5 linked regions of the Homo sapiens genome follow. The protein of the gene in region 3 purifies or fractionates together with the protein of the main gene of each other region. This does not show direct contact. Each region holds a gene or a part of one and is shown on either strand. Other genes may lie near its edges. The genes, in order: PCDHGB4, TIMM44, HDHD5, ELSPBP1 and TMEM63A.

Region 1 (5,221 bases), on a different chromosome or scaffold from region 3:
TCTGCCTCCATGTACCTCAGCTTGGTGGTCCTAAAAAATCTTGATTGCTTCTTGACCTATTTACAGTATAATCATTTATTAATGGGGTGGTAGTAGAAGGTTGGATTTATGCCTAAAGAATGAAATGTGTGTGTATCACACTTCACTAAGATCTATATCAAAGACAGACATCAAGTCTAATGCCACACTAAAGGCCATCGGACAAAACCAATAAAATATGTCAAATAAAATGTCATTTTAAGTGTTGTAATTGGCATTTGTGACATAGGCAATTACATGTTTTAACAGAGAATTCCAGTATGTTGTTTTAGTGGTACAGCCAGATGAAGTGTGTCTGTGGGCTATCAAAGTGGGAGATTGGGGATACTGGCTTTGTTTCAACTGTCTCACGTACTCAAACCTTAGACCATCTTATGTACACAGATCCTAGACCAGTAGTTGATTTTATTTATTAGGTCTACTGAAAAATTCAGTTGGAAATAACCCAATCTGGGATTAACTACTTCCATATTCTTTTGTATAACATTTTAGTAAAGCTCAGTATATCAAGTGATTGTCATCCAGAAGGGGTGGATGACAAGGTAATCTTGATTCCAGAGACCTTTGAGTATTAATTAAAAACACACTTTTAGCCAGGTATGGTGTTGCAAGCTGTAGCCCACCTGCATGGGAGGCTGAGGCAAGAGGACAGCTTGAACCCAAGAATTGGAGGCCCACCTAGATAATATAACAAGACTCTGTCTCTTCAAAAAAAGACTCTTTTTAGACTAGTGTTGTATTTGGTAGTATTTTGCACATGATAGACTCTGTACAATAGTGTGGGGGATACATTTTTTTTTTTTGACATGGAGTCTCGCTCTGTCACCCAGGCTGGATACATTTTACAAGTTCTGCAGTGTTCACATTTCAGATGTACAATCACTTGGGGTAGAAGACAATGTTGCTGACACCAACAATGTTACTGAGGGAAGATCCTATGGCAGAACTACGGTTATAAGGTATTTTGTAAAAGAAAATCTCCTGACCAAAATTTATTAGATGCATAAAATTGTTTTTAAGCAATGGAGAGACATAATCACTAAACTCAGTGAGCTATTGCAATCAAACTTTCCAGGGATTGTTTCCTTCAATTCAGAGGTCACCAAGGAATGTAAAATAAGTGCAGAGGTAGGAAGCAGTGCTTCAGTGCAGCAGATCTCAGTGACTTTGTGTTTTGAGGCTATGTATTATCCCCCTGATAACTTTGAAGATGAATGTTGTATTTCATAACCAGTAAAATAATTGTGTAATGAGGAGAGGAGTAGGCTACTGCCTGTGATCATCGAAATGAGAATCACATAATATTCCTGTAATGAAATCACTGAAACTATTGGGAAGGGGGTGTATTTGAAGATAAGTATAAATTGCACCTTCTAAAAGGCAATTTTGGTATTACTGATACTCTCCGGAAAAAGTTGAAATAAATCAACTTGGAGGTACTTAGAAAAGTGGAGAAAATGTTAGGAACAATGAAAGAAAGATAAAATGTATCCAGTATATTTCTAATGAGTAAGTATGGAAAATTACTGTACTCTGAGACGGTTTAGGCCAAGTCTGTGTTATGGCTATCTTTATATAGATAGTGCATGTTTGAAGATTGGGGAAAGCTTATGTCAATAAATGTTTATGTACTTAATCTACATGATTTGCCTAAAAATCCTCAAAGTTGGGATGAAGGCATTCCTAAGAGTACATTTTTAGACGTCATTAAATATACAGACGTATCCACGTAGTTTTTGTTCTTTCAGTTAGGCACACAATTATAATTATTGCACTGGTTAACTTGAAGCAGCAGAGGCTGTAGTTTCCTAGTGCTGACTCTGGGCGCCGCTGTTGGCCAAAGTGGAGAGCTTGGCGCTCCAGATCTCCTCGCGCAGCCGCAGCGCGCTTTCCAGGGCAGCCCCAGCTCAGACTCCCCAGCGCCAGCCTTTACACCGCTTCCTCCTCGGAAAAAGAAGAATTTTTTCTTGAACTGGAACTGCAACTAAAGTCCGTTCGGAGATCCAAAAATCTGCAATACAGAGGTTATTTGTAACCCGGCGTCTCCAGGCTGGTGAGCAAGCTGAGGAGAGCAAGAGGGATGGGGAGCGGCGCCGGGGAGCTGGGCCGGGCTGAGAGGCTGCCAGTGCTCTTTCTCTTCCTGCTGTCTTTGTTCTGCCCGGCGCTCTGTGAGCAGATCCGCTACAGGATTCCCGAGGAAATGCCCAAGGGCTCCGTAGTGGGGAACCTCGCCACGGACCTGGGGTTCAGCGTCCAGGAGTTACCGACTCGAAAACTGCGCGTCAGTTCGGAGAAGCCTTACTTCACCGTGAGCGCAGAGAGCGGGGAGTTGCTTGTGAGCAGCAGGCTAGACAGGGAGGAGATATGCGGGAAGAAGCCAGCTTGTGCTCTGGAATTTGAGGCTGTTGCTGAAAATCCACTGAACTTTTATCACGTGAATGTGGAGATCGAGGACATTAATGACCACACGCCAAAATTCACGCAAAATTCCTTTGAGCTGCAAATAAGTGAGTCTGCACAGCCTGGCACACGATTTATATTAGGATCTGCCCATGATGCGGATATTGGTAGCAACACACTGCAGAATTACCAACTCAGTCCCAGTGATCATTTCTCACTGATAAATAAAGAGAAATCAGATGGCAGTAAATACCCTGAGATGGTATTGAAGACACCTTTGGACAGAGAAAAGCAGAAATCCTACCACTTGACTTTGACTGCCTTGGACTTTGGAGCTCCACCCCTAAGCAGCACTGCACAGATACACGTTCTAGTGACTGATGCCAATGATAATGCTCCAGTGTTCAGTCAAGACGTATACAGGGTGAGCCTTTCAGAAAACGTGTACCCGGGGACCACGGTGCTACAGGTGACTGCCACGGACCAGGATGAGGGTGTCAATGCCGAGATTACTTTCTCTTTCAGTGAAGCTAGCCAGATCACCCAATTTGACCTGAACTCTAACACCGGGGAAATTACTGTTTTAAATACATTAGATTTTGAAGAAGTCAAAGAATATTCCATAGTTTTGGAAGCAAGGGACGGTGGAGGAATGATTGCGCAATGCACAGTGGAGGTAGAAGTCATAGATGAAAATGACAACGCCCCAGAAGTGATATTCCAGTCTCTACCCAACCTAATTATGGAGGACGCCGAGCTGGGAACACATATTGCTTTGCTCAAAGTCCGTGACAAGGATTCCAGACACAATGGAGAAGTGACTTGTAAATTGGAAGGTGATGTTCCATTTAAAATATTAACTTCTTCAAGAAACACGTATAAATTAGTGACAGATGCTGTTCTAGACCGCGAGCAGAATCCAGAGTACAATATAACCGTTACGGCAACAGATCGGGGCAAGCCTCCCCTCTCCTCCAGTTCCAGCATCACCCTGCACATTGGTGATGTAAATGACAACGCTCCGGTTTTCTCACAGTCTTCCTATATAGTCCACGTGGCCGAGAACAACCCGCCTGGAGCCTCTATTTCACAAGTCAGGGCTTCTGATCCGGACTTGGGGCCCAACGGCCAAGTCTCTTACTGCATCATGGCCAGTGACCTGGAGCAGCGGGAGCTGTCATCCTACGTGTCCATAAGCGCGGAGAGCGGGGTGGTGTTCGCGCAGCGCGCCTTCGACCACGAGCAGCTGCGCGCCTTCGAACTCACACTGCAGGCCCGCGACCAGGGCTCGCCAGCGCTCAGCGCGAACGTGAGCCTGCGCGTGTTAGTGGACGACCGCAACGACAATGCGCCACGGGTGCTGTACCCCGCGCTGGGTCCCGACGGCTCTGCGCTCTTCGATATGGTGCCGCACGCTGCAGAGCCTGGCTACTTGGTGACCAAGGTAGTGGCGGTGGACGCAGACTCAGGACACAACGCCTGGCTGTCCTACCACGTGCTGCAGGCTAGCGAGCCCGGGCTCTTCAGCCTGGGGCTGCGCACGGGCGAAGTGCGCACAGCGCGTGCCTTAGGCGACAGGGACGCCGTCCGCCAGCGCCTTCTGGTCGCCGTGCGTGACGGTGGACAGCCACCACTCTCGGCCACTGCCACGTTGCACCTGGTCTTCGCCGACAGCTTGCAGGAGGTGCTGCCGGATATCACTGACCGCCCCGACCCCTCTGACCTCCAGGCTGAGCTGCAGTTTTACCTAGTGGTGGCCTTGGCCTTGATCTCAGTGCTCTTCCTCGTGGCCATGATTCTGGCCATTGCCTTGCGCCTGCGACGCTCCTCCAGCCCCGCCTCCTGGAGCTGCTTCCAGCCTGGTCTCTGTGTTAAATCCGAATCCGTGGTTCCCCCCAACTACAGCGAGGGGACTTTGCCTTATTCCTACAATCTATGTGTTGCACATACAGGAAAGACGGAGTTTAATTTCCTAAAATGTAGTGAGCAGTTGAGTTCAGGACAAGACATACTTTGCGGTGATTCATCTGGGGCCTTATTTCCACTTTGTAATTCCAGTGAATTGACTTCCCATCAGGTGAGTTTCCTTTAAGTATAATTTAATGCTCATTGCCTACCCATTTCTCCATATTCACAAGAAAATATACATATTTGCAGGAAAATATATAATTTTTAGATGTCATGGATCATTTTAGGAAAGTTGTAGTCAGTTAAAAAGCTGTCATATCATTCTACAAAGGAGGAGTAAAGTAGGAGCAATTGTGTGGCCCAACATTTGTTTGTTTTTTAGCCAAGCTTAGATTTATAAAGCAATGAGGGTGTGGTTTTAACCACAAAGTGAAAGTGTTAGACAGTTGTTGGCTCTCTCCTAAAAAGTGAATGAGATTTTTCCTATACATTTTCCTTCTTGTTGACTAATATATGATGAATACTTTTTTCAGCTTGGATATACCATAAATATAAAAATAATAAAGCCAAAGAATTTAAGCTAAAATTCAACACTTTTCTTAACTAATTTAACTGGTATGGTCTCCATAGTAGTCCACTGTTTTGTTTCCTGTGTTAACTTCCCTTTTGTTTCAAAAGCTCTTAGAATAAGGAGTCAACTGGATTTTTATGTCCATGGACCCCTTGTGATTATATGCAGTGTACGCTGTGTGTGCGTGTGTGTGTGTGTGTGTGTGAGAGAGATCCTTTTACTTAGAAAAAGGTCTACTATGCTCATTAGAAGATCAAAAGCAGATTCTCCTTACTTGTAACATAGGAGTTTCAGGATTAATCT
Region 2 (4,683 bases), on a different chromosome or scaffold from region 3:
TCATGGCTCTGGGGGTGCCGGTGTGCTCATGGCTCTGGGGGTGCCGGTGTGCTCGTGGCTCTGGGGGTGGCGGTGTGCTCGTGGCTCTGGGGGTGCCGTTGTGCTCATGGCTCTGGGGGTGCCGCGTACCACAGGAGCACAGAAGGCCTCTGCCGGCCTCGGGGAACCAGATCCGCCCTTCTCTCCGGCAGGAATTCATTCCTCCTGCCCCGCCCCCCGGCCGCCAGGGCCGGTGCCAACGCCCCCTCTCTGTGTCTGTCTCAGTAGAGCCTTCACGAAGTCAGTAAAAGTGATCTCGGCCGGAAAATCAAGGAGGGCGTGGAGGAAGCAGCCAAGACGGCCAAGCAGTCGGCCGAGTCGGTATCCAAAGGCGGGGAGAAGCTGGGCAGGACAGCGGCCTTCAGAGCCCTCTCCCAGGTGAGCCCAGTCCTGGGCTAGGGCATGCAGCCTGGGGCGGCCGAACCCAGACACCCACCCCAGCCCCGCTGTGCCTCCCTCGCAGGGGGTGGAGTCCGTGAAGAAGGAAATTGACGACAGCGTCCTGGGACAGACCGGGCCCTACCGGAGGCCCCAGCGACTCCGGAAGAGAACGGAGTTTGCGGGAGATAAGTTCAAGGAGGAGAAAGTGTTTGAGCCAAACGAGTAGGTACCAGCCCGTGGCCCTCGCTGCCCCCATTTTGGGCAGCTTTCACTGCTGTCCATTTCGGGAGCCCACCAATGGTTCCCTCCTGAGTCCGTTTCTTGAGTTTGCCTTCTGCCCAAGGTTCCCGGCTCCCTCGAATTTGAGGGTGAGAGGTGAGGGCGGGGTCCTCAGAGCCCCTAGGTTTGAGGTCTCAGCTGCCTGCTGTCCTGTACTGCCCCCTGCCTGCAGCCGCAGGAGGGCACAGGGTGGCCCTGGCGCCGCCGCTCACCCCAGGGCCCACCCTCTTCCCCAGGGAGGCCCTGGGGGTCGTGCTGCACAAGGACTCCAAGTGGTACCAGCAGTGGAAGGACTTCAAGGAGAACAACGTGGTGTTTAACCGTGAGTGAAGGTGTCTTGGAGGGCAGGTGACTGTGTCCCGGGCAGTTGGTGGACCGCAAGGTGATCCCCCTGCATTGGGCACAAGACAGCCCCGTTTTGCAGAGGAGGAGATCGGGGTCAGAGTGGGCCGGTCACTTCTTTGCGGTCACATGATGGTGGGGCTGTAGATTCTGCCGCCAGAAGCCAGGTGCTCCCTCATAAGCACAGTCAGGGCCCCGAAACGAGCCGCAGGCCCCTGTCCCTTGTCCTGTGAGGACTGCTAGAGGCCTGTGTTTCCTTTGTAGTGAAAGCAACAGCCAGTGGGGTGGCGGCCCATAACTTACACAGCCCCATTAGGGCCGCAGCTGAGGGGCCTCTGCGCCTGGCCAGGTAGGTGGGCAGGCAGCGGTCCCCAAGCACAGATGAGGATGCAGGTCCACAGCCGTCCCCTCCCTGACCCCACCCGTGTCAGGGTGGATCCCGCAGGGGTCACAGGGAGCCTCTAGAAGCTGTGAGGGAGGGTTGTGTTTCTGGAAGGGGCCCCTTCTCCAGCACCTACCCCATCTTCCACAGGGTTCTTCGAGATGAAGATGAAGTATGACGAAAGCGACAACGCGTTCATCCGGGCATCCCGGGCCCTTACGGACAAGGTCACCGACTTGCTGGGTGAGTGAGTCATCCCTGGACCTCGCAGGCTGGTGGTGGGGCGGGGTCCCCGGCCTTCCCCCCGAACTCCCGGCTCTGCTCCCTGCAGGGGGCCTGTTCTCCAAGACAGAGATGTCGGAGGTGCTCACGGAGATCCTCCGGGTGGACCCGGCCTTTGACAAGGACCGGTTTCTGAAACAGTGCGAGAACGACATCATCCCCAATGTCCTGGAGGTGGGTGCCACACCCCCAGGACCCCTCCCAGGCGGCAGGTCCTGGCTCCACCACCTCCCCCGCCGCAGCCGGCACCCTGGGTGCTGCCAGGGAACTCTGCTGCCGAGGCTGTTTTCTGAGGAGGCTGGTTGCACACGGGCTCCTGCCCGGCTGCAGCTGCCCCATGAGCTGTGCCCGAAGCCCTTCCTGGGCCTTACCGGCACCTCCGGTACCTCCAGGTCTGTTTCCCTCACTCCTCCTGCCTGAGGCTGTTGTTCCTTTGAGGTTGCTGGGAGCAGCTGCTGGAGGCTAGGGATTGTCTCAGGTGCCTGGAGCCCCTCACCCCTTGGGAGAAGTGGGCGTCTGTCTTCAGACATCAGAGCTGGCCCCAGGCCACGTCTGACCCAGAGCTGCAGCCGTGAGGTTCCCTCACGGTGCTGTCCCTGGCAACCAGACCCTTGTTGGGCTTATAGATGAGGGTATCTTGCTCAAGGTCATGCTGCAGCCTGCCCCCTATAAGCCTCTCCCTGAGGTTGGTGGCCTCTTGTCTTCCCTGCTGCCTCTGCCTCTCTGCAGCCCCCAGGATGCAGGAGGAGCCTGGACACCTTCGGCCCAGTCGGGCCAGGCCTCTGGAAGGCCCTTCATGGGACTCTCCATCCTTGGCCCCGCCGGCCTCCGCCCAACGTCCTCTTCCTCCTCCAGTTTCCCGTATCCTTCCCGCCACTTCGGGCAGGGCTGGGAGGTGGTGCGGATGGGCGCCATGCCCCAAAACAGCAGCCTGAGCACCGCAGTGCCTTCCGGGATGGGTGATGGGTGCCAAGTGTTCTGGCCACCCGCCCCCTGCCGCTCACAGCTTTCACCACCAGCATCCGGCTCCTTCCCGCTCTTCTCCCCGCTCCAGGCACCTCCCTCCCCCTCATCGGATCCGGCCCAGGCTCCAGGATCCTGTGGAAGCAGCTCCCAGCCCAGGCACGCCCCCTGCAGCCCACCCCTCCCTCTCGCTGCCCCCAGCAGTTAGGAGGCAGCCGGTCCCATGGTGGGCCTTGCAGTCCGAAATGTGGTCCCCTGGGGGGACAGAGGACATGGGCTCACTGCGGGAGCCGGAGTTGGGTCCTCATCTCCCTGGCTTGGATTCCTGACCAGGCTGAAAGCTGGGTCCCCAGCCACCTTTCTCTTCCTCCACCAGGTTCCAGGGGGGTCCCCCTGTGGGGTGCCTCCTGGGTGGTCGCCCGCAGGCCGCCCTCCGCCTGTGCCTAGGCCAGAGCCAGGCACTGACACCAGCAGGGACGGGCCTGGGGGGGACACCCAGTGCCACAGCTCCACCCGCGCCCCACAGGTGGCAGCCGGGGGTGTCTGAGGAAACTCCCCACCCCGCACCACTGGAGAATGTTCCCAGGACCTCGCCTGCTGCCTGAAAAGCCCACTCTCGTTCTGGTGCTTATTTTCCCTTCCTTTTTAGGCCATGATTTCTGGAGAGCTTGACATTCTCAAAGACTGGTGCTATGAAGCTGTGAGTACTTCCTTTCTTTTTCTTTTTTTTTTTTTAAGGCCTAAAAAATCACCATGGAGAAGTTCCACTTCGGTGGCTCCGTTGGGGTAGCTCCCAACAGGCAGGACCTGGGCTCCCGGTGGGGGAATCCTCACGTCTCACCCTCCGAGAGCCTGACATCCCCCCCTGCCCCTTTCCATTCCTCAGCATGTGACACATCTGGGCTCTCAGGCTGGACACCGGGTCACCCGCCAGTCCTTTGCTCCCAGACTGTAAACTTTGTTAGGGAGAATCCTTCTCTGGGCTGGTGTCTAAGAGATGGCTGGTTGGGGGTGTCCCCTGGGCCTGTGAGAGATCACAAAGCTGCCAATTTTACTGGGCCTTTTTTTTCCCTCCAATCTTAAAATAATTTTGGTTAGGTCTGGGCACGGTGGCCTATGCTTTCAATCCCAGCAGCCCAAGGCGGGAGATTGCTTGAGCCCAAGCATTCAAGACTAGCCTGGGAAACATAGCAAGATCCCGTCTCTACAAAAACATTTAAAATGAGCCAAGTGGCAGGGTGCGGTGGCTCATGCCTGTAATCCCAGCACTTTGGGATGCCAAGGCAGGCGATTGCCTGAGCTCAAGAGTTCGAGACCAGCCTGGGCAACATGGTGAAACCCCATCTCTACTAAAATAAAAAGTTAGCCAGGCATGCTGGTGCATGTCTGTAATCCCAGCTACTGGGGAGGCTGAGGCAGTAGAATTGCTTAAATCCGGGAGGTGGAGGTTACAGTGAGCTGAGGTCGCGCCACTGCACTTCAGCCTGGGCAACAGAGCAAGATTCTGTCTCCAAAAAAAAAAAAAAAAAAAAAAGAGCCAAGCATGGAGGCAGGCACCTGTTGTCCCAGCTATTAGGGAGGCTGAGGTGGGAGGATCACTTGAGCTCACGAGGTCAAGGCTGCAGTGAGTCATCGCAGCACAGCACTCCAGCCTGGGTGACAGATCAAGACACTGTCACTAAGGAAATAGGTCGGGCACGGTGGCTAACGCCTGTCATCCCAGCACCTTGGGAGGCTGAGGCGGGCGGATCACCTGAGGTCAGGAGTTCGAGACCAGTCTGGCCAACATGGTGAAACCCTGTCTCTACTAAAAATACAAAAATTAGCCAGGCCTGGTGGTGGGCGCCTGTAATCCCAGCTACTCGGGAGGCTGAGGCAGGAGAATCGCTAGAACCCAGGAGGCGGAGGCTGCAGTGAGCCGAGATTGCACCACTGCACTCCAGCCTGGGCAACAGAGCGAGACTGTCTTAAAAAAAAAGAAATAATAATTTAGGGAAGGAGAGTCCCAGGAGAGG
Region 3 (3,812 bases):
CTTAAATCCTGCTGTAGAGCTGAGGCAGACTACGGTTGCGCTTCTCCCCTTCTTTGCTGGTGTCCATTTTCAGCTGACCATATTGCCACTAGGTGTGAAAAAGACCTTCGCTTGCCTCCCTGCCAGCGAGGCGTGGCCATGTGACTAAGCTACAGTCAAGGAAAGCAGAAATGCTGGGCTAAATTTTCAATAAGCATCCTTAAAATTGGGGACAGGCGGCCAGGCGCAGTGGCTCATGCCTGTAATCTTAGCACTTTGGGAGGCCAAGGCAGGTGGATCACCTGAGGTCAGGAGTTCAAGACCAGTCTGGCCAACATGGTGAAAGCCTGTCTCTACCAAAAATGCAAAAATTAGCTGGGTGTGGTGGCACATGCCTGTAGTCCCAGCTACTTGGGGGGCTGAGGCAGGAGAATCACTTGAACCCGGGAGGCGGAGGTTGCAGCGGGCCAAGATTGCACCACTGCATTCCAGCCTGGGCAAAAGAGCAAGACTCCATCTAAAAAAAAAAAACAAACAAACTGGGGACGGTATTCTTCTCTGCCCTCTCTGCCCTCCCCAACTCCTTCTTGACACCTGGAATGCTGATATGATGGCTGGCGCTTGGGTACAATCTCAGCTCACTGCAACCTCCACCCCCTGGGTTCAAGTGATTCTCCTGCCTCAGCCTCCGAGTAGCTGGGATTACAGGCACCTGCCACCATGCCCGGCTAATTTTTATATTTTTAGTAGAGACGGGGTTTTGCCATGTTGGCCAGGCTGATCTTGAACTGACCTCAGGTGATCCACCCACCTCGGCCTCCCGAAGTGTTGGGATTACAAGCATGAGCCACCACATCTTTCAGTGTCATTTATGTAAATAATTCTACTTTTAATTAGAAAAGTTCATCTAAAATCTGGTTTGTAAATTGAAATCTGCCCCTTGCTTTTCAGTTCACAGAGACATAACCAACCAAGCCCACTGATCTAGTGTCAGCATACCCGCCTCTAGGAATAATACTTCAGAGACAATGCCAAGCCTCGAGCCACAGACATACACTTTAAAAGTGACAAGAGCATACCATACCCCGTCTCTCTGGGACTACTGAGACGGGCCCTGAGGCAGTACTGGGCCGTGCCCACCCTCTGCTGACGAGCACTGTCGACTGGGGGTCAACAGCAGGCTGAGACTCAAGAGACTGGCCATGCAGATAACAGCAACCGAACAGTACACAGCAGCTGTCAGCTGGCCTTCAAGTAAGCACCCTGAGGCCAAAAAAGGGCTGCCTCTATCTGTGCTAGCCCCAGAATAAGACAGGACACATGACACCAACACAGCTGAGCAGGGAGTATAGGCACCTGCATGCCCCTGAGAAAGCCACTTATCTGCTGGGTCTCAGTTCTCTGGTCTATACGACTATCAGAACAATCCTTGGCCGGCATGATGGAGCACGCCTGTAATCCCGGCACTTTTGGAGGCTGAGGCACGGGGGTCACTTGAGGCCAGGAGTTCAAGGCTGCAGTGAGCTATGACTGCACCACTGCACTCCAGCCTGGATGAGAGAGTGAGACACTGTCCCCGCAAAAAAAACAAAACAAACAAAAAACGACAAATCCTTGCTTCCTCCTGCCTTATGTCTGAAGGGTAAAAGGAAACCAGAAAGTCAAAGAACCAATGCTACAGGATGGAGCCAAGGAAGGAAGAGCAACTGAATAATGTGCACAGATACGGTACAAAAAGTGCCCACGGTTTGGGATCCACCAGACACCAAGAGCATGTTCTGTAAAGATTACAGGGGGCAGGGGTCACGTGTGAAACATCCTCTCAATACATCCTCAGACTCCATAATCTGTAGTTTAGGTTTAGTAACTAATATGTGGAGTGGTCCTTGAAAGCCCTTCCAAAGGCCAGGTTACTGCAGCAACAACAGGGCCTACCTAAGTGAGGTCCCGGCACCTGGGGTGTCAGGACGGATGGGAACTGCCTGCAGGACTGCCCAGGCAGCAGCCAGGAATAGACCACCAGGCCAAGGCTGGGAGCTTTGTGTCCTCACCTGGGCATCTTGGCTTCAGCCATCCACAGGAGATCCATGTTGCTGGCTAGGACGGGGAGGTGGGGGTAGGGGGGTGTTGCCAGGCCAGCCCCAGGGCTCCCATTGCTGAGGAGGACATCCATGATCAGCTGCAGGCTGGTCTCCCAGCGGACCGGCTCCCCTAGGAGGAGCACCCCTTTAAAGAACAGAGGCGCAGGTGAGGGCTGCAGGGCAGATGGCAGGCGGCAGGCCCTCAGGATGCCAGCTAGGGCTACCCATCCACAAGCCCTCCACCCATGGTGCACCCAGCTGGGCAGGGGCACAGCTCCCCAACAAGCCCAGTAGAGCCCCTTACCCATCCACCCTGGGTGCACAAGGCCCAGGGCCCAGGAAGGAGATTCCTGAGGGCTCCCATTCTGACTTCAGTCCACCAGTGCTTCACAGAAGAGGTTACAAAACAAAAGCAGCATGTCTCAGGGCTACTTCTCCTTGCTGGCTGGGACTCTGCCACCACATTCTCCCTCACATGACTTAGCAAGGGCTCCTGTTCCCTCAGTCGCTTCTCTCTGAGCCCCAGGGACTGGCAGAACCTAACAGCCAGGACAGGGGGTGTGGAGTGATAGAGACTTGAAACCCAACCTGGACTCCACCGATTCTCCTGTATGACTGTGGCCAAGTAACTTCTCTTCTCTAAGCCTCAGTTTCCTCAACTGCAACTACATAACAGCAACAGCACTTAGCTATTGTGAGGATAAAAATGAGCTACATCATCGGTAAACAGCCCAGGACTAGACACACAGTAAGCACTAGGCAAAGAACACTGCTGACACTAAGGTACAGGGCCGGTGAACTGCACCAGACCAGTGATTCTCCATGGGGCAGCACCGCCCCTGCTGAGGTGCTTTACAAATCAGAGGCAATTTTAGTTGTCACAATGACTAGAACCTAGCAAGTGAAGGTTGTGGGAGGGGGCCAGGGACGCTACATACTCAGGACAATCCTGTGCAATCAAAAACTATCCCACACTAAAATTAATTTTTAAAAAAACCATCCCATGGCTGCGTGCGGTGGCTTGTGTCTGTAATTCCAGCACTTTGGGAGGCCAAGGTGGTAGGATTGCTTGAGCTCAGGAGTTTGAGACCAGCCTGGGCAACATAGTGAGAGCCCGTCTCTACAAAACAACAAGAAGAAAAAGAAAAAACTTTCCCATGTCCTCATAACATTTGAATGTCCCACCTGATATCCTGGTATCCACACAGGTGAACAACCTTTTCAGAATTACTTGAACGATTCTATTTTACATACAATCACAAAGCATTTTTGTACAGCTTCAATAAACATCAATTTTTCCAAAAATACAACTATCGTGTAAGTCAAGAGAAGACTGTACTTTGCCTTTTCAAAACTCTACCAAGAACTGTTACCTATTTTGGAAAATCACTTGACCAACGGCAATGCTGCCCCTAATTTCTGAGTCACCGGTAAAACACGCCTGTCACACCTATAAACACACATCAGCCTGCATTTGTAGCTGTTAACATTCATGGTGATTCTGTTTAGTGCAACCATTTTACTTCTTGGATAACTACTACATACTGAAATACATTATCTTCTTACTAAAAATGTTTCCTTTTATATCCCCCTATTACAGTTAGGGCTTTATACTGAACTAATTTTTAATATGTGTGTACAGAAGTTATATTACCTAAGAATTTCACTTCAGGATAATAAAGGGGATATTCCAATGTTCTTGGTATAAAAAGGGGAGAACTGGGTTTAAAAGTTGAGAAACACTAGACTAGA
Region 4 (4,683 bases), on a different chromosome or scaffold from region 3:
TTCTCCTGCCTCAGCCTCCCGAGTAGCTGGGATTACAGATGCCTGCCACCACACCCAGCTAATTTTTTTTAATTTTTAGTAGAGATGGGGTGTCGCCATGTTGCCCAGGCTGGTCTCGAACTCCTGGCCTCAGGTGATCCACCCGCCTCGGCCTCCCAAAGTGCTGGGATTACAGGCATGAGCCACTGTGCCCAGTGGGCATGGGTGTTTTTCAAAAAAAGTTATGTTGAATGTGTCTGTCTCTCCTGCCTCCCCTTCCACCTCCTCCATTGCTTCTGCCTCTGTCATCCCAAGATGGTGAGACCAACCCTTCCTCTTCCTCCTCCTCCTCAACATGAAGATGATGCTAATGACCTTTATGCTGATCCATTCCCACTTAATGGATAGCAAACATATTTCCTCCTTTTTACCATTTTCTTATTAACATTTTCTTTTCTCTAGTTTCCTTTATTATGAGATACGGTATATAATACATAAGACATAAAACATATGTGTTAATTGACAGTTTATGTTACTGGTAAGCCGTCTCGTCAATAGCAGGCTATTAGTAGTTAAGTTTTGCTGGGATTACAGGCATGAGCCACCTCGCCCAGCCTCAAATCCCGTTTCTTACACTTCGTTTCCTTTTTCCTTATTAACTTAGAAAATTAAGAAAGGCATAAAGATGGGATGGTTCTATTGGGTCAACTAGTCTTACAGTATCACAAGACCCTCATCCAGAGAGCACTATTTTTAACACTAGCATTATTAACATTATTACCCATTATTAGCATTCATTGTCAGGCATCCCAGAGCCTTTTCTTTTTCTTTTTTTTTTATTTGTGGAAATTAAAAACAGTAATTATATATCATTTATTACCCATTACATTATCACTGATTTTTTTAAATTTTATTATTATTATAATTTAAGTTTTAGGGTACATGTGCACAATGTGCAGGTTTGTTACATATGTATACATGTGCCATGCTGGTGTGCTGCACCCATTAACTCGTCTTTAGCATTAGGTATATCTCCTAATGCTATCCCTCCCCCCGCCCCCCACCCCACAACAGTCCCCGGTGTGTGATGTTCCCCTTCCTGTGTCCATGTGTTCTCACACAAGTTAGAATGGCGATCATTAAAACCCAGAGCCTTTTCTACGCACGCATACGTATTACCGTTTGTCTGCAAAAATGTGATCATGTCATAGACAGTCACACATTCTCTTTTGTGATCCACCCTATTCAAAGGCCACTGGCAGGGACAATGTGATACCACTCACCTTCACTCTGGCAGTACTTCCACTGGCCGTTGTACACGGCTCTGGTGGCACACCAAGGGGATAAGCTATGAATATGGGTGCAAGTGAAGTAAACAGATCCCTTGTAGGTGAAAGGAAAGACACATTCCTCATGCATCCCTGAAGGGCAGAAGGAGAAAACAGGAGTGGGGAAGAATCACGATGAATTAGCAAAGGATGAGTCTTGGTTTGGCTCTTGCTTTAATATGAATGTCCGTGTTCCCTCCCTGCCCCCGCCGCAAAATTCATATGTTAAAATCCTAACCCCCACGGTCATGGTACGAGGGGCCTTTGGAAGGTGATTAGGTCGTAAGGGCAGAGCCTTCATGACTGAGATAAGAACCCTTATAAGAGACCCCAGAGAGCTAGCTAGCCCCTTCTACGATGTGAGGATACAGCAAGAAGGCACCATCTGTGAACCAGGAGGCAGGCCCTCACCAGCAACTGAAACTGCTGGTGACTTGCCCTTGGACTTCTCAGCCTCCAGAACTGGGAGACAGAAATTTATATTGTTTATAAGCTACGCAGTCAATGGTACTTTTTAAATTTTATTTTATTTACTTTTTTTTTTTTTGAGATGAAGTCTTACTCTGTCACCCAGGCTGGAGTGCAGTAGTCTGGTCTCAGCTCACTGCAACCTCCACCTCCTGGGTTCAAGAGATTCTCCTGCCTCAGCCTCTAAAGTAGCTGGGATTACAGGTGCCCGCCACCACACCTAGCAAATTTTTGTATTTTTAGTAGAGACGGGGTTTTGCCATGTTGGCCAGGCTGGTCTCAAACTCCTAACCTCAGGTGATCCTCCCACCTTGGCCTCCCACAGTGCTGGGATTACAGGCGTAAGCCACCATGCCTGGCCTGTGGTATTTTGTTATGGCAACCCAAATGGACTGAGACAGTTCTCATGGTGGCCTGAAGGCTACACACCTAGGCTTAGCATCCAATTTCCTAATGACATGTCAGAGCATATCCAGTTCATGTTGGGGCCAGGAGCACTGGGGAAGAGTTTCATACACAACCAAGACAACCGTGGTGTGTTGTTCCTTGAGACCACTGTTTCTCAGAGCATAAAATGGGGGGCCAATGACATTACACAAAATACTTTTTGGTGGATCACAAGATCACATTAGGTTATGTAAGGACACACATTAAATAATTTTGAAATATAGACTAGAAAAAAATCATTTTCCAGTGGTCCTTTTAGTCCTTCTGCTTACGCAAAAGAGAAAGCTTCAATTTAATAGTAGTATTTCTCTACTGCATCTCTAATACTTAATAATCTCCCATTTTAACAAAAAAGAGAGGGGGGTGGGGAGCAGGACTCAAACTCAAAGCTTTATTCGGACGATAGTCTAGCAGAATTTAATAATGGGATTTTGTTTTCATAGTACAGTATTTCTTTTTGGTCGTACTTCCTATTTATGGAAAGTGGTAGTGCTTTTTTATATTATAATACTGATGTTAACCAATCTCCCAAAATGAATTTTTTAAAGTGAAGAAAAGTAAGCAAATTTAAAGAAAAATGTTGAGTAAATAATAGTACTGGTGGTACCCAGATGTGGCAAATATTGAGGGGACAACTTTCGACGTCCTTATTCTTCTCAATGAGTACAGGAACTTTGTTTTTTGTGCAGTGTATCTACAGAACCTAGAATAATTATTTGCTCAAGAAACAACAGAAACAATAAAATAAGTTTGGAAAAATGCCACGTGAAATAAAGTTAAACAGGTTTCTTTAATGAAGGACTCAACAGAAAAGTTAATATGAAAATGAGAATTGATGAATACAGTATATCGAGTTGTCCTTCTTTTTTTTCAAAATTCAATGGCACTAGAGACTAATGGTCCCTGAAATATATCAAAAAATGCTGTTCTCGGCCAGGCACAATGCTCCATGCCTGTAATCCCAGCACTTTGGGAGGCTGAGGTGGGCGGATCGCTTCAAGACCCGCCTGAGCAACAAAGTGAGACCCCCATCTCTACAAAAAAACAAACAAACAAGATTAGCCGGGCATGGTGGTGTGCCCCTGTAATCCCAGCTACTTGGGAGGCTGAGGGGAAGACCCTTTGAGCCTGAGTAGTTGAGGCCACAGTGAGCCATGATTGCACCACTGTACTCCAGCCTGGGTGACAGAGTGAGACCCTGTCTGAAAACAAAACAAAACAGAACAAAACAAAAAACAAAAACGGTGTTCTGCAGAATTTTGATGTGTAAATTTTTTTGAAAAAAGAAAGAAATGCTATTCTATCCCAAATTCCTCATTACATGAAAACCCACGTACAATAAGGACTAATTAAAGTTGATTGCTTTTTTTTTGTAGACCTGGGATGAGAGCTCAACTTGCTCAACTGTTAGTTCATTGCATTTTTCACCTTGTTTCTCAGAACTGTTTGGTATTTATTTTTGTGAAACTTAAACCAGTTTAAATCTGGAAAGTGCTTAGAAGAGTACCTGGAGCATGGCTGCTGCTTAATAAATATTAGCTATGATTATCATTGTCATCATCATCATCATTACCATCACTGTCATCATCATCATTCTCCACGCTATTGTCATTGGCATCATCATAATGCTCATCATCATTGTCATGATCATCATCATCAGTCATTGTCACCATCATCAGTCTCATTATTGTCATTGTCATCAGGATGATGATCATCATCATCGTTGTCATCATCATTGTCATCATAATCCACCTCATTATTGTCATTATCATGTGATGATGATCATCATTGTCATCATCATCATTGTCATCATTATCAGTCATTGTCATCATCATTGTCATCATCATTATCAGTCATTGTCATTATCATCAACCTCATTATTGTCATTGTCATCATCATCACTGTCATCGTGATCATTATTCTCCTCCTCATCACATCATTATTGACATCATCATTATCATCGTCATCATCATTGTCACCATCATCATCATCATCGTCATAATTGTCATCATCATCAGTCATTGTCACCATCATTATCAACCTCATTATTGTCATTATCATGGTGATCATCATCGTCATTGTCATCATCATTATCAATCATTGTCATCATCATCATCAACCCCATTATTGTCATTCTCATCATCATTGTCATCATTATTGTAATCATTATTTTCCTCCTCATCACATCATTGTCATAATCATTATCATCATCGTCATCATCATCACTGTCACCATCATCATTGTCATTGTCGCTATTATTGTTGTCATCATTACCGTCATCATTGTCATCATCGTCATATCATCATCATCCTCATCATTATCATTGTCATCTTCACTGTCATTATTGTCATTATCAATGCTTTGCCTCAGTCACGAACACCACTGAGTATATAGGATACTGTGTTGAGGGAGAGGGCAGATGCCCCTGTAGGTGGAATTAAGGTTATCTTTGGGAGTCGTT
Region 5 (4,683 bases), on a different chromosome or scaffold from region 3:
TCCAGGCCTGGGTCCTCCTCTGATCTGCTGTGTGACCGCATTTGAGTCACTTCCCCTCTTTCTCAGTCTCCTGCCATGCAAAGAAGGCTCATAGAGTTGCTTTGGAAGTGGATTCTTTGTACAGCCTGGAAGAAGACGCTGTGTAAATGACATGCTTTGGGGGCTCCCCCGGCCACAGAAGGAGAAAACTGGAGCCTTCTGATTTCCTGTTGTTTACTTTCCAGAGGCTGGAGTTGGGTAGGAAACCTGAGCATACCGGCACACTGGCTTGTGGGTGACTTCTCTCCCTGCTGTATTTCCCGGACAGGTGAGGCGGACCCTGTTCATCACAGGACTCCCCAGAGATGCCAGGAAGGAGACTGTGGAGAGCCACTTCCGGTAAGCAGGTGGGGTGGGAGGGGAGCTGAGCCCCCTCCACGTAGGACCAACACAGCCCCACCCGCAGGGCGAGCACCTTAGGTGAGCGCCTTCTGTCTCTCGCTTGGGTATCCAGGTGAGATCTGAGAAGGACCTGGCCCTGCCACACGTGTATGGAGTGGCTCCTGTGTGCCAGCCCTGCTGGTGCTGTGCAGTGAATAGCGCCCTGGTGGCCTATCCTCTTCAAGCAGCCTGTGCACAGTGTCCAGAGCACAGACCAGGGTGTAGGTGCGAATAAACGTCTTGAGAGCATACGGGGGAAAAAATTGTTGACCCCGGGGTTCTTAGCATCACCTTTGCAGAATAAGAGAGACGTGAGCTGAGCATTTGTATGGACCCACAGGGCTAGGGTCTCACAGGTGGAAGGACCTCGGGGCCATCTCTGCGTTTGTTCGTTTGTCCACCCACTGAGCGGGTGTCTGTTGAGTGAGCACTGTGTCTGAGTCCAGGCTCTCCCTGGTAGAACCTCCTTTCCAGCGGCTCCCTTTGAGTATCTGCACCACCAATTCCTGCAGATGGAGGCTGGAGGAAAGTCTTTCCTGTGAGGAGATTACGTGTGCAGCCAGGGATGCGGGGAAAGGCCCAGAGCATCAGGAAAGGTGGCGGTGGGGTGCAGGGGGGCAGGGCAAGCAGTCCGGGAAGGCTCCCAGGACCCCATGCTGGAGGACCTGAAGGCTGGGCTGAGGAGCTGACATTTTATTCTTTCTTCATTCCTTTTTTTGTAATCTTATTTTTTTAGAGACAGGGTCTTGCTCTGTTGCCCAGGCTAGAGTTCAGTAGTGCAATAATAGCTTACTGCGGCCTCAACTCCTGGACTTAAGGCATCTTCCTGCCTCAGCCTCCCAAGTAGCTGGGACTGCAGACACATGGCACCACACCCAGCTAATTTTTAAATTTTTTATGGAGATAGAGTCTTGCTATGTTGCCCAGGCTGGTCTCGAATTGCTGGGCTCAAGTGATCCTCCTGCCTTGCCCTCCCAAAGTGCTGGGATTACAGGCGTGAGCCACCATGCCCGGCCTCTCTTCATTCCTTATCAATACAGCAGCCACTAATTTGTTGCATGGACTAGGAGTTGGCTGCACTTTAACTTTGCACTATTTGTGAAGAAAGCACTTGCTAAGCAAATTGCTAGACAGGATCGTAAACTGAATGTTTAAAATTTGAAAAACTTCTTCAGAAACTCTAAGTATTTTAGAAATATTTACTAATATGTAAATACTCAATACCAGAATCATTTTTCTGTATTTCCTTGAAGCAACTCCTCAAAGTTGCCTGCTAGGCAACACCTGGAAACAGTAATTCCACTTAATGTATAACTTTAAAGAGAAAAAAAAAGTCTCCTCATTCTCATACAAACATTGCATGACTCATGCTTTCCCCTATTTTAAGAGGCCTTTTTAGTGAATGCTGTTGCAGTCCGTGGGGATTGATGTATGAATTTGCCTTTCAAGCAGGGATGCTTAAATTGCAGTTTTCTTCCTCACAGCTCTTATTGAGACCAGAAATTGTCCTACTGTTTAATTTCATGATTGATATACCTATGGGCTGTCTCTCTCACTAAAATGTAAGCACATCCAGGCCCTGTTACCAGCACCTAGAACAGTGCCTGGCAGGTGGTAGGTGGGGATTTACATGGTTCTGGAATCCCCTGGAATTGTATGTATAATTTTGCGTGTATGGTGAGGGGGTATTGCATGGTGGCCATGAGCATTGACCTTGGAGCCAGGTTGCCTGTATTCACCTCCTGGCTCAGACACTCACTAGCTGTGTGATCTTGGGCACAAGCCACTTACCTCTGTCGGCCTCAGTTTACTCATCTGTAAAATGGGGACAAAACCTCACAGGTTATGATGAGGATTAAATAAATAAATATATGTAACAATACCTGGTCAATAGTGAGTATGTATTTTGCTGGGTTTTTTTTTTTTTTTTTTTTTTTTTTGAGACGGAGTCTCACTCTGTTGCCCAGGCTGGAGTGCAGTGGGGCAATCTTGCTCACTGCAACCTCTGCCTCCCAGGTTCAAGTGATTCTCGTGCCCCAGCCTCCCAAGTAGCTGGATTACAGGTGTGTGCCACCACACCTGGCTAATTTTTGTATTTTTAGTAGAGACAGCGTTTCACCACATTGGCCAGGCTGGTCGCAAACTCCTGACCTCAAGTGATCCACCCGGCTCAGCCTCCCGAAGTGCTGGGATTACAGGCATGAGCCACCGCACCTGGCCTTGCTGGTTGTTAATATGTGTGTAGATATTTTCTGGTCTGAGGGTCCTTTGCTTTCATTAGACCCTCTGAAAGGTCTGTGACCTTAAAAAAGGCTACCTGAATAGGATTTCAGTGATGGCTCAAGGTAGATACTGACCTAGCACAAACAATAAATCTGTTCCTTTGGGTCTTTAGAGGGGATAGTGATGTGTTCATTTTTCCCCAGGAGAAGTGCCAGCTGATTCCAAGCCAAGTGGGTATAAACTTGTCAGTTCCAGGCAGTTAGCTTCATACTACTAAAAAAGGCTAGCGGGGTGCAGTGACTCACGCCTACAATCCCAGCACTTTGGGAGGGTGAGACAGGAGGAGTGCTTGAGGCCAGAAGTTCGAAATCAGCCTGGGCAACATAGCGAGACCCCGTCTCTACAAAAAATAAAAATCAGCCTGGTGGCATGTGCCTGTAGCCCCAGCTACTCAGGAGGCTGAGGTGGGAGGATTGATTGAGCCCAGAAGGTTGAGGCTACAGTGAGCCATGATTGTGCCACTGTACAGCAGCCTGGGTGACAGAGTGAGACCCTGTCTCTAAACAAAACAAAACAAAACAAAAGCCCTCTTTGTATTAAATTTCAAAATTTCCCCCTTTTGGAGGATAAAAGACAAAGAGAAGAGAGGTCTCCGCTGGCACAGAAACCAGCAGCGAGATCACTCTGCCATCCTTTCCCTTGGATCCGTGGGCACGTCTCCTGCTTGGGGTGTTTTCTTTTCCAACGGTGTCTTTTGCCTCCTTCTCTCCCTGGCCACAGGGACGCGTATCCCACGTGTGAGGTGGTTGATGTGCAGCTGTGCTACAACGTGGCCAAACTGATCTACCTGTGCAAGGAGAAGTGAGTGGTGGGCGGGCCTTGCAAGATGCCCCCTCCTTCCTTGCTGGCCTCGCATCTCCCAGCTAGGAAGGGAGGCGGGAGGCCCTGGACCCCTCCTTCTCCCCTGGCGTTCGATGGTTGAACTGTGGGTATGGGGGTCCCTGCCACAGGATTCTAAATCTGAGGTTTGTGCCCCCGCTCCCACCCCTACAGAAAGAAGACTGAGAAGAGCCTGACCTATTACACAAACCTGCAGGTGAAGACAGGCCAGCGGACCCTCATCAACCCCAAGCCCTGTGGCCAGTTTTGCTGCTGTGAAGTGCTGGGCTGTGAGTGGGTAAGGGTCCCACCCCCCGGCTGGGAGCAGAGGCATTGGCATCGGGGTGCCCCAGATACCAGCATGGGGCCACGTCATCCCAATGGGATGTGTCTTGTGGCAGGAAGACGCCATCTCTTACTACACACGGATGAAGGACAGGCTGCTGGAGAGGATCACAGAGGAAGAACGCCACGTCCAGGACCAGCCCCTGGGAATGGCCTTCGTCACCTTCCAGGAGAAGTCCATGGCCACCTAGTGAGTGTAGGCACATCCAGACCCCTTCTTGGCTGACTCCCTGTTCCCCTCCAGATAACTCACTGTCCCTCTCGAGTGGAGATGGTACTGCTGACCCACCATCCCTGGGATTTATCTGTGGTGTTTCCTTCTCCTCCCTCAGCTACCCACACTCACTTTCAGCCAGCCCAGCCCATGTTTGTGTAACAGGCGGTGGGGGTGTGGGCAGCAGCCACGGAGTGGGTGATTCTGGCTGACCCCCTCGAGCTGATGTGGCCTGGCCCCACTGCTGGGCTCTTCCCTGCTGCCCTGGACCCATCCTGTTGGCTTCATGTGCCAGCCTTGCCCCAGGGGAGATGGAGGCACCCTCCTTTCAGACATCTGCTCTGGGCCACAGATCCTTCTGTCTGTGGCTCCCCACCTTCCCACAAATGCAAAGCTGTGGGGAAGACCCCTGGGGCACGCTGGGGCGCTCACTGCAGTGGGGAGCTTGACCCTGGGGAGTGGCTTTTCACAGTGGCCCTTGGCATGGGACTCTAGGCTCTCATGCCTGTGGTCTCAGTGTCATCTCGCCTTAGGAGCAGCACAGGGTGGGTCGGGAGAGGGGTGTGGAAAGGTGTCCAGCCACTGCCCCAGGCATTGTGACA

The links.
Region 1: the proteins of HDHD5 (region 3) and PCDHGB4 purify together in Homo sapiens (co-immunoprecipitation; one large-scale study listed by IntAct). This does not show direct contact.
Region 2: the proteins of HDHD5 (region 3) and TIMM44 purify together in Homo sapiens (affinity purification with mass spectrometry, with the first as the bait; one large-scale study listed by BioGRID). This does not show direct contact.
Region 4: the proteins of HDHD5 (region 3) and ELSPBP1 purify together in Homo sapiens (co-immunoprecipitation; one large-scale study listed by IntAct). This does not show direct contact.
Region 5: the proteins of HDHD5 (region 3) and TMEM63A purify together in Homo sapiens (co-immunoprecipitation; one large-scale study listed by IntAct). This does not show direct contact.

What each region holds. Positions count from the first base shown.
Region 1 is NC_000005.10:141,385,766-141,390,986, forward strand, and holds the start of PCDHGB4 (protocadherin gamma-B4 isoform 1 precursor), read left to right. Parts: upstream 1-1,932; 5' UTR 1,933-2,119; coding exon 2,120-4,516; coding exon of another isoform or gene 4,517-4,531; intron 4,532-5,221. UniProt on the Homo sapiens protein: Potential calcium-dependent cell-adhesion protein. May be involved in the establishment and maintenance of specific neuronal connections in the brain.
Region 2 is NC_000019.10:7,929,823-7,934,505, reverse strand, and holds part of TIMM44 (mitochondrial import inner membrane translocase subunit TIM44), read left to right. Parts: intron 1-267; coding exon 268-417; intron 418-502; coding exon 503-642; intron 643-935; coding exon 936-1,021; intron 1,022-1,573; coding exon 1,574-1,666; intron 1,667-1,754; coding exon 1,755-1,879; intron 1,880-3,317; coding exon 3,318-3,368; intron 3,369-4,683. UniProt on the Homo sapiens protein: Essential component of the PAM complex, a complex required for the translocation of transit peptide-containing proteins from the inner membrane into the mitochondrial matrix in an ATP-dependent manner.
Region 3 is NC_000022.11:17,139,029-17,142,840, forward strand, and holds part of HDHD5 (haloacid dehalogenase-like hydrolase domain-containing 5 isoform 2 precursor), read right to left. Parts: intron 3,181-3,812; coding exon of another isoform or gene 3,041-3,180; exon of another isoform or gene 2,369-3,040; coding exon of another isoform or gene 2,365-2,368; intron 2,206-2,364; coding exon 2,031-2,205; intron 1-2,030.
Region 4 is NC_000019.10:48,010,888-48,015,570, reverse strand, and holds part of ELSPBP1 (epididymal sperm-binding protein 1 precursor), read right to left. Parts: intron 1,401-4,683; coding exon 1,263-1,400; intron 1-1,262.
Region 5 is NC_000001.11:225,861,592-225,866,274, reverse strand, and holds part of TMEM63A (mechanosensitive cation channel TMEM63A), read left to right. Parts: intron 1-307; coding exon 308-378; intron 379-3,423; coding exon 3,424-3,504; intron 3,505-3,696; coding exon 3,697-3,820; intron 3,821-3,923; coding exon 3,924-4,057; intron 4,058-4,683. UniProt on the Homo sapiens protein: Mechanosensitive cation channel with low conductance and high activation threshold. In contrast to TMEM63B, does not show phospholipid scramblase activity. Acts as a regulator of lysosomal morphology by mediating lysosomal mechanosensitivity.